Regions from separate parts of the Homo sapiens genome. Here all the other regions are linked to region 2. Evidence: fine-mapped expression QTL. A gene starts in region 2. Each other region holds a variant in brackets. All regions are shown on one strand. Distances are between the middles of the regions. Region 1 overlaps ARHGAP39 (Rho GTPase activating protein 39). Region 2 holds the start of COMMD5 (COMM domain containing 5). Region 3 overlaps LOC100130027 (a long non-coding RNA gene).

Region 1 (2,641 bases), 320 kb after region 2:
CTCAGGGGCCCCTGTCTCCGCCTCTGGGGTCCACCCTGATCCTGCCCAGTGATGTGATGGCTTCCCAGTCACTTCTAGCACATCCTCCCTTCTGCCCATTGGACAGTTTCCCCAGGTGTCTGCTGGGCACCCCGAGGCCTACCTGTGCAATGCAGCCCACTCCCCACCTGCTGCTCCCTGCCCTGTGCCCTTCTGCCGTGCCTGCTATGTCTAGCCTACTCCCCACCTGCTGCTCCCTGCCCTGTGCCCTTCTGCCGTGCCTGCTATGTCTAGCCTACTCCCCACCTGCTGCTCCCTGCCCTGTGCCCTTCTGCCGTGCCTGCTATGTCTAGCCCACTCCCCACCTGCTGCTCCCTGCCCTGTGCCCTTCTGCCGTGCCTGCTATGTCTAGCCCACTCCCCACCTGCTGCTCGCTGCCCTGTGCCCTTCTGCCGTGCCTGCTATGTCTAGCCCACTCCCCACCTGCTGCTCCCTGCCCTGTGCCCTTCTGCCGTGCCTGCTATGTCTAGCCCACTCCCCACCTGCTGCTCCCTGCCCTGTGCCCTTCTGCCGTGCCTGCTATGTCTAGCCTACTCCCCACCTGCTGCTCCCTGCCCTGTGCCCTTCTGCCGTGCCTGCTATGTCTAGCCCACTCCCCACCTGCTGCTCCCTGCCCTGTGCCCTTCTGCCGTGCCTGCTATGTCTAGCCCACTCCCCACCTGCTGCTCCCTGCCCTGTGCCCTTCTGCCGTGCCTGCTATGTCTAGCCCACTCCCCACCTGCTGCTCGCTGCCCTGTGCCCTTCTGCCGTGCCTGCTATGTCTAGCCCACTCCCCACCTGCTGCTCCCTGCCCTGTGCCCTTCTGCCGTGCCTGCTATGTCTAGCCCACTCCCCACCTGCTGCTCGCTGCCCTGTGCCCTTCTGCCGTGCCTGCTATGTCTAGCCTACTCCCCACCTGCTGCTCCCTGCCCTGTGCCCTTCTGCCGTGCCTGCTATGTCTAGCCCACTCCCCACCTGCTGCTCGCTGCCCTGTGCCCTTCTGCCGTGCCTGCTATGTCTAGCCCACTCCCCACCTGCTGCTCTCTGCCCTGTGCCCTTCAGCTGTGCCTGCTCTGCAGACACCCCCTCACGGTGGCTACACAGACGACTCCTGAGAAAAATCCTGTTTTGCACAACTCTGCTGGCGTGACCCACATGCCTCCAGGATCGAGTTCAGGCCCCCAGGAGCCGAAAGGCCCTCTGGGGTCAGGGCCCAGCCTGGCCAGATGGGCCCTGTCCAGAATGAGC[C/T]GGCCCTCCCAGCCTGTCCCCCACAGCACCCCTCCATGCATGTCCGCCACGGGACCCCATTTGGCCCAGGGGTGCCCGCCGAGCAGGGCCGCTGAGCCCCGTGCTGTGTCCCCAGCGTCCCTGCTGAAGCTGTGGTACCGGGAGCTGGAGGAGCCCCTGATCCCGCACGAGTTCTACGAGCAGTGCATCGCGCACTACGACAGCCCCGAGGCGGCGGTGGCCGTGGTGCACGCGCTGCCCCGCATCAACCGCATGGTGCTGTGCTACCTCATCCGCTTCCTGCAGGTACTTCCCTCCCCGGGGGTCCCCGCTGCTTTCCCCTCCCCGCCCCGCCCCCGCCCCTCCGCGCCCACCCTCGCTCCTCCACCAGGTCTTCGTGCAGCCGGCCAACGTCGCGGTCACCAAGATGGATGTCAGCAACCTGGCCATGGTGATGGCGCCCAACTGCTTGCGCTGCCAGTCCGACGACCCGCGCGTCATCTTCGAGAACACCCGCAAGGAGATGTCCTTCCTGCGGGTGCTCATCCAGCACCTGGACACCAGCTTCATGGAGGGTGTGCTGTAGCGGGGGCGCCCGGGGACAGGAGGGATGTCCTGCCGCCCCCAGCCAGGCCGAACTCCGCACTCGCTCTCCCGGCAGAGGGGCCAGAATCGCCCGGCCCAGCCCTGGAGCCCCCTCCACTCCCCCAGGCCCCTGGCCCCGGCGCTCCCCACGTCTTCTGCCTGGTCTGAGGGTGCAGCCAGGGCACAGCAGCGGCGGGGAGGGCGCCTCTGGCCCCCCACCTCACGGCCAGTTCCCGCGGGCACCGCCTCGCCCTCCGCTGGCCGCGGGTCAGCTCCGAGAAAGTGCCTTCTGTGTCCTGGAGCCGAGCGACGCTGCCTCCTTGGGGCCGGGCTGCCTCCCTGTGGCTCCTGCGCGCCCTGGCCTGGGCCTTGCCCAGCCGCCCCGGTCTCTCCTTCCCTTTCTCCTGTCCTCGTCCTGGCCTGCAGCTCTTCCCAGCCCCGAGAGAGCTTCCCGACCTGTCCCCGCCTCCTCTCCCTCCCTCGGCCCGTGGTCCCCAGCTGGTGACTGCTCAGGAGTTTGGGGGCTCCAGGACAGTGGGCCCGGGGCCTGGCAGGCTCTCGGTGGGTGGGGTGGGGGCCCCCAAACCAAAGTCCTCTGGGGTAGGGAGCAGGGCTGGGCAGGCATTCTGGGGGCAGGGTGGGGGAGGGGCGAGAGTATTTTTTTCTTCGTGTAACTGTAAATCCAGAATCTATCCTGCATCGCAGCCCACCGTGTATAGAGATATAAATAGAGGGAAAGATATAAGAACTAAATTTGCTAATGACATAGTTTTAACCTAAATGCTATTTATCTCTGAGCCGTCCCCGTCCT
Region 2 (2,791 bases):
TGCACCCAGTCTCCACTCCTATTTATTATTGAACACTATTCCATTGTATGGCTGATGTGGTTTGCATCTGTGTCCCCGCCCAAACCTCATGCTGAAAGGTAATACCCAATGCTGGAGGTGGAGACTGGTGGGAAGTGATTGGATCGTGGGGGTGGCTTTTCATGAATGGTTTAGTACCATGCCCTTAAGTTATGGTCTCATGATAGAGTTCTCCTGAGATCTGGTTGTCCACCTCCGCCTCCCAAAGTGCTGGGATTACAGGCGTGAGCCACCGCACCCAACCTGTCATTTTTATTATAACCCTTCTAATGGTATGAAATGGCACCTCCCCGTGGCTTCCATTCGCATTTCTCTAATAGCCAACAATGCCGAAGGCTTCATGTACCCATTACCCACTTTGTATCTTCCTTGATGTCTACTCACATCTTCTGCCCATTTAATTAGGTTGTTTCCCTTTTCAGAGTTTTTTTTTTTTTTTTAAGTTTTATTGGGCTATAATTCACATACCATATAATTCACCCATTTTGTACAATTCAATGATTTTGGCATATTATTTTTTAACTATGGTAAAGTACATGTTAAATAAAATGGCTCGGCCATTGTTTCGGACCGAGCTCCTGCGCTAGGGCCCAACAGAGCAGCCCAAAGCGGAACCGAGTCACGCGCGCCGGACGCCACCCGACAGGAGGGGAAACGGGGCAGCTCTCAAAACCCTGGAGGCGCAGACCGTCCACACGGGACAGGGACGCCCGCTCGGCTCCGCTCCGCGCTGATCCTCAAGGTCTCGCGGTTTCCCCGCCGCCCACCCGGACGCCGACGAAAGCCAGCGAGCTCCTCAGCCTCAGGTGACTGGAATTCTGACCCCAGACCACGGGACGCGTTCTCCCGCTTTACCCTCACTCTGCGCGGGCGGGGAGGGAGACGCGGGCGCAGGCCGCAGTTTCTACCTCAGAAACGGAAACACAACACCGCCTTCTTTTTCTTTGGGGAAAGAAAAAAAAAAAACTGTCTAAGACGAGGTCTGGGACCCCGCCGGCGACCCCCGATTCCCCCGGGCGGGGAGGGGGCGGGACCTGGCGCGGCCTCGGCTCCGCCCCTCGGGCCAGCGGACCACAGTGGGGCGGTCATTGCTGCCTTCCTAGAGCGGCCCGGAAGTGGCTCTCAGGGCGCTTCCGGGGACCAGGCCCGCTTTTGGCTGCATCAGCCGGGGATTGCCGGCGCCAGGTGCTGGGGGCGACTCGGACAGCGGGAGCGTGGGGTGGAGTAGGATGGAGTCTCCCTCCCGAGCTGGGGGTGTGGGCCTAGGAAAGGCTGCTTCGCCGCTGTGTTCGGAGAGCTCTGGATACTGCGGGGCTTTTCCGCGGAGGAGCGCCCGCCGGTAGGTTGGCCCCGAACCGTGGGGGCGGCGACGGCCGAGTGCCAATTTGACTCTGTGCACCAAGGTCCCCGCGCCCCGGAACGGGCGACGCCGCGCCCCCATCAGAGCCGCGGGTACGGAGTCAGGGTGCGAACCCGGCCTTCCAAGCCGCGCGACCGGAAGCGGGCAGCTCGGAGGCCTTCCCGGATGGCTCTTTGGAGTGGGAAGGAGCTCCTGGTGCTGGCGGGACGGTGAAGGAGTTGGCAGTGGGTGGTCGTTGACTCCCAGGGAGAATGGGGCGCCGTGAAGCCCGTGGGGAGCTCCTGGGCTCCCCCAGCGCTGTGCAGAGTGGCCTGACAAGTGCCTCGAGGACAGGAGCTGTGCCCCGCTGAGCTCTGCTCCAGTACCTGGTGTGCTGAGGTGGGCACGTGCGTTTCCTCTGGCATAGCAGGTGCTTGTGCTGCTGCACTGCTCCTTCAGGTGCGTCGGAACCCTCTTTAGTTGCCGCACTTGCCTCTGTTGCCAGCCGTTGCTCAGCTCTTCCAGCCCGGGGGTTGGGGCTGTGGTGGAAACAGCTGGGACTTCTGAATAGACAGGTCTAGGCTTCAGTCCTTGACTTTGGCAGCTGTGTTTAGAGCTTTGATTTCTTTTTACTTTTCTTTTCTTCTTCCCTGCCTCCCCTCCCTCCCCCCTCCCTCCATTCGTTCGTTCCTTCCTTCCTTCCTCACAGCATCTCTGTTGTCCAGGCTGGAGTGCAGCGGCTCGATTTCGTCTCACTGCAGCCACGACTTCCTGGGCTCAAGGGATCCTCTGTCCTCTCAGCCTTCTGAGTAGCTGGGACTACAGACGTGCACCACCACGCCTGGCTAGTTTTTTAAATTTTTTGTAGAAACGGGGTCTTGCTATGATGCCCAGGTTGGTCTCCAACTCCTGGGCTCAAGCGATCCGCTGGCCTCACCTTCACAAAGTGCTGAGATTTCAGGCTTGAGCCACTGCACCTGGCCTAGAGCCTTATCTCCCTCTCTGTCAGGTGAGAATGGTAATTCTTCTTGCCCACTGTTGTGAAGGATTCAAGATTGAATAGTTAAATGGTCTCAGTGTGGTCTGTGGCGCCAGCTGCAGTGTCCCTGTGTTCCCCGGACCGTTCCCCTAGTTCATTCTTTCATCTATTAATTTACTTGGAGAACTTGTGCTGTTTCCTGGTCCTCCTCCCTGCCCCCTACTTCTCTGCCAATTCCTGCTTGTCCTTCATGCCTTAGATGTCACTTCCTCTGGGAGGCCTCCGCTCCTCCTGGGACTGACATGGACCCCTCTGCCACCTGCTTCCAGGGCCATCTCCGCAGCACTGACTGTCATTGGTAGTTCACACTGTCAGCATGCTGATGATGGGGACCATATCAACCCTCACTCGCTGGCCCAAAGGATGTGAGAGTC
Region 3 (2,791 bases), 28 kb after region 2:
AAACACGTAGAAACTGGCCCTGCCCTGAGTCCAATCCCTTAAACTCTCATCTAAGCTCCATAGCCAGAGTCCCTTGCTGCAAATGTACCTGGGTGGAGCATCCCTTGCCTCATCATCGATCCCAAGAAAGCTGAAGCTCCATGTGAAAATTTCCGGAAGAAATGCTCTGGACTGATCACCCTGGCGTTTAGAGCTTCTTTCCTTGGAATCCCAACCAATTCCATCGCGGGACTGTTTGGGGAAGTCTTTTGAGGCAACTCCCTTGCTGCCACTTTTGGGGCAACTCTAGCCTCCTCATATTTGGCCAGATAGAACAGTTCCAAGCTGTAAATGTTTCCAGGAAAAAATCTCAACTACAAAGACACTTTCAAGGTGCTGCATTTCCAACAGCACTCTCCGTATCCGAGTGGACAGCCCAGAGCAATGGTGCTTCCAATCCACAGAGCCCCTCCACAGGTCCCTTGCCATCTGCAGACACCCACATCTCAAGGTGAGTGCAGACACCCACATCTCAAGGTGAGTTCAAATGTATCCTGGATTTGTTTTTTGTTTGTTTGTTTGTTTTTTAAGGCAGAGTTTCACTTTTGTTGCCCAGGCTGGAGTGCAATGACAGTCTCAGCTCACTGCAACCTCTGCTCCCGGGTTCAAGCGATTCTCCTGCCTCGGCCTCCCGAGTAGCTGAGATTACAGGCACCTGCCACCACGCCTGGCTAATTTTTTGTATTTTTAGTAGAAACGGGGTTTCACCATGTTAGCCAGGCTGGTCTCGAACTCCTGACCTCAGGAGATCTGCCCACCTCGGTCGCCCAAATTGCTGGGATTACAAGCGTGAGCCACCGCGCCCGGACCCGTGGATTTGTTTTAACAGGTGTGGTAAGGCATGCACACGTGAGAATGACTGTTGTGAAGGAAGAAGTTATAGTCGTGGGTCCCTGGAAACTGGGCAGGGCACACAGGGCGACATGAGAAGGACCAGGGATGGCCAGGAGGCAGAAAGGGGGAGAGGACTGAGTTTGGCCGGAGCCTTTATTTTCTCTGGAAGGAGAGGGCAGGCAGGGTAGGTATGCAGAGTGAGCTCACGATTGGACTATTTGAACAATTGTGGCAGGCTCAGGGCTGTAGGGGTGGCCCCTTCTTGTCCGGTACCTGGCCCTCGGGTTACTTAGGGCAGGGGAAATATTGGCTTGGTGAGTGACCGTGTGATAAGGGAGGGAGATAGTTGTGGACTCTGGATTGGTTGGTTTGTGTCTCAAAGGTGCACTGGGGCTGGGC[A/G]CAGTGGCTCACGCTTGTAATCCCAGCACTTTGGAGGCCGAGGAGGGCAGATCACCTGAGGTGAGACCAGCCTGGCCAACATGGTGAAACCTCGTCTCTATTAAAATACAAAAAAATTAGCAGGGTGTGGTGGTGCACGCATGTAGTCCCAGGTATTCAGGAGGCTGAGGTGGGAGAATCGCCTGCACGCAGGAGGCAGAGGCTACAGTGAGCCCAGATCACGCCACTGCACTCCAGCCTGGGTGACAGAGCGAGACTCCGTCTCAAAAAAAAAAAAAAAAGGTGCACTGGAAGGGGAGTGTTTGCCGTCTCTGGGAATTAGCTAGCCCTGGAGGGAGCAGCCTCTCCAGGATCAAGGCCCCAAATGCTTGGGTGACCCTGGAGAGCAGGGACGGAGCCCTGCAAACAAAAGGTTCTTCATTCTATGCACACACTCTCTGGTGCATGGTTTCAAAATGTCTTCGTGAAGTCGGGTCCAAGCCTCTATGCAGTGGAGAGAACACCTAGGGAGGAACAGTGCCTGACGGGTGAGCTGGGGAGGAGTGGGCACTGCCAGGAGGGCACTGGGCTGCTGTGGGATGGGGTGAGGTGAGCATCAGGTCGCGGTGCTGTAGGTGTTCCTGGAAGGCACCCTGGGCCCTCTGGACAGTCAGTCCTCACCCATGCCGCACCCATCAGAGTACAGAGATCGTGCCTCCCTGTAGTGATGATCTGTTTGGGATGGCATGATGACAACCACAAGCAGAATCTGCTTTTCTCTAACAGCCAAATCAAGAGAGACTGGAGGCTTGTGCCAGCTGGGCATCTTTGGGGGTGAGATCTTGGCAGCCGCTTCCTACCCTTCAAGTGTCCTGTGGGCAGCCCGCCTGGCTAGCTGGGTATGAGGGTCCGCCGGTTCAGGCCCTGCCTGCTGCACCTCCCCAGGCTCACTCCAGGCCTCTGGACTGTTTTCCTCAAGCAGGATTTCCAGCCTGCAAACCTGAGCTAATCTCCCTGCTGGAATGAGGGGAGGCGCCCTGGATCCTCACCCGGCCAGAAACGGGGGAGAGTGCTCCCAAGGGACCCTAGCAGAGGTGAGTGAGCGTGAACAGGGTGGACACAGCTCCACTGCCATAGGCCAGGCCACAACTTGGAGTGGGCCTGGGAGCTCAGAAGTTTCGGAGGACAGAGAACTAGGAGCCAGGAGCCTCCAAGAGCCACAGCGCCCACCTCACGGAGGGCTGGGGCAGACAGCTGGCCCCACCTGGGCACCATGCCATACAGAGACCCACGAGTGCCAGAGCAGCCACAGGACTGGGGTTTTGGGAACAGCAGTAGAGGCTGCTGCGCACACACAGAGGAGGATGGCACAGAGGCCCTGGAGATGGAGGCTCTGCTGTGCGTTGGGGATGGCCGTGCTGCCATCACACCAGGGATGTCCAGGGGGAGGCAGCCTCAGGAAGCAGTGCCACACGGGCTGGTTATGAGTCGACAGTGAGGCTTCCAGCTTGAGGACCCGGTGACATGGGCTGGGAGAGGG

Evidence for each region. PIP is the estimated chance that this variant, and not a neighbour inherited with it, causes the effect.
Region 1: its variant is fine-mapped to the expression of COMMD5 in whole blood (TOPMed, PIP 0.98).
Region 3: its variant is fine-mapped to the expression of COMMD5 in whole blood (TOPMed, PIP above 0.99).

Annotation. Positions count from the first base shown.
Region 1 is chr8:144,529,612-144,532,252 of GRCh38, reverse strand. It overlaps ARHGAP39 (Rho GTPase activating protein 39), which reads left to right. Exons shown (of 12, transcript NM_025251.3): 11 at 1,382-1,551; 12 at 1,637-2,641. The coding sequence ends at 1,831. Among named protein-coding and RNA genes, the nearest start is that of C8orf82, 1.8 kb to the right of the region's middle. RefSeq lists a silencer at 2,176-2,275. The variant C/T (reference allele first, on the strand shown) is at 1,267.
Region 2 is chr8:144,851,426-144,854,216 of GRCh38, reverse strand. COMMD5 (COMM domain containing 5) reads left to right here and starts at 1,169. Exons shown (of 2, transcript NM_014066.4): 1 at 1,169-1,378. RefSeq lists enhancers at 549-648, 1,199-1,528, 1,106-1,954 and a silencer at 939-1,128.
Region 3 is chr8:144,823,012-144,825,802 of GRCh38, reverse strand. It overlaps LOC100130027 (a long non-coding RNA gene), which reads left to right. Exons shown (of 5, transcript NR_147501.1): 1 at 1-490. Among named protein-coding and RNA genes, the nearest start is that of ZNF7, 3.2 kb to the left of the region's middle. The variant A/G (reference allele first, on the strand shown) is at 1,273.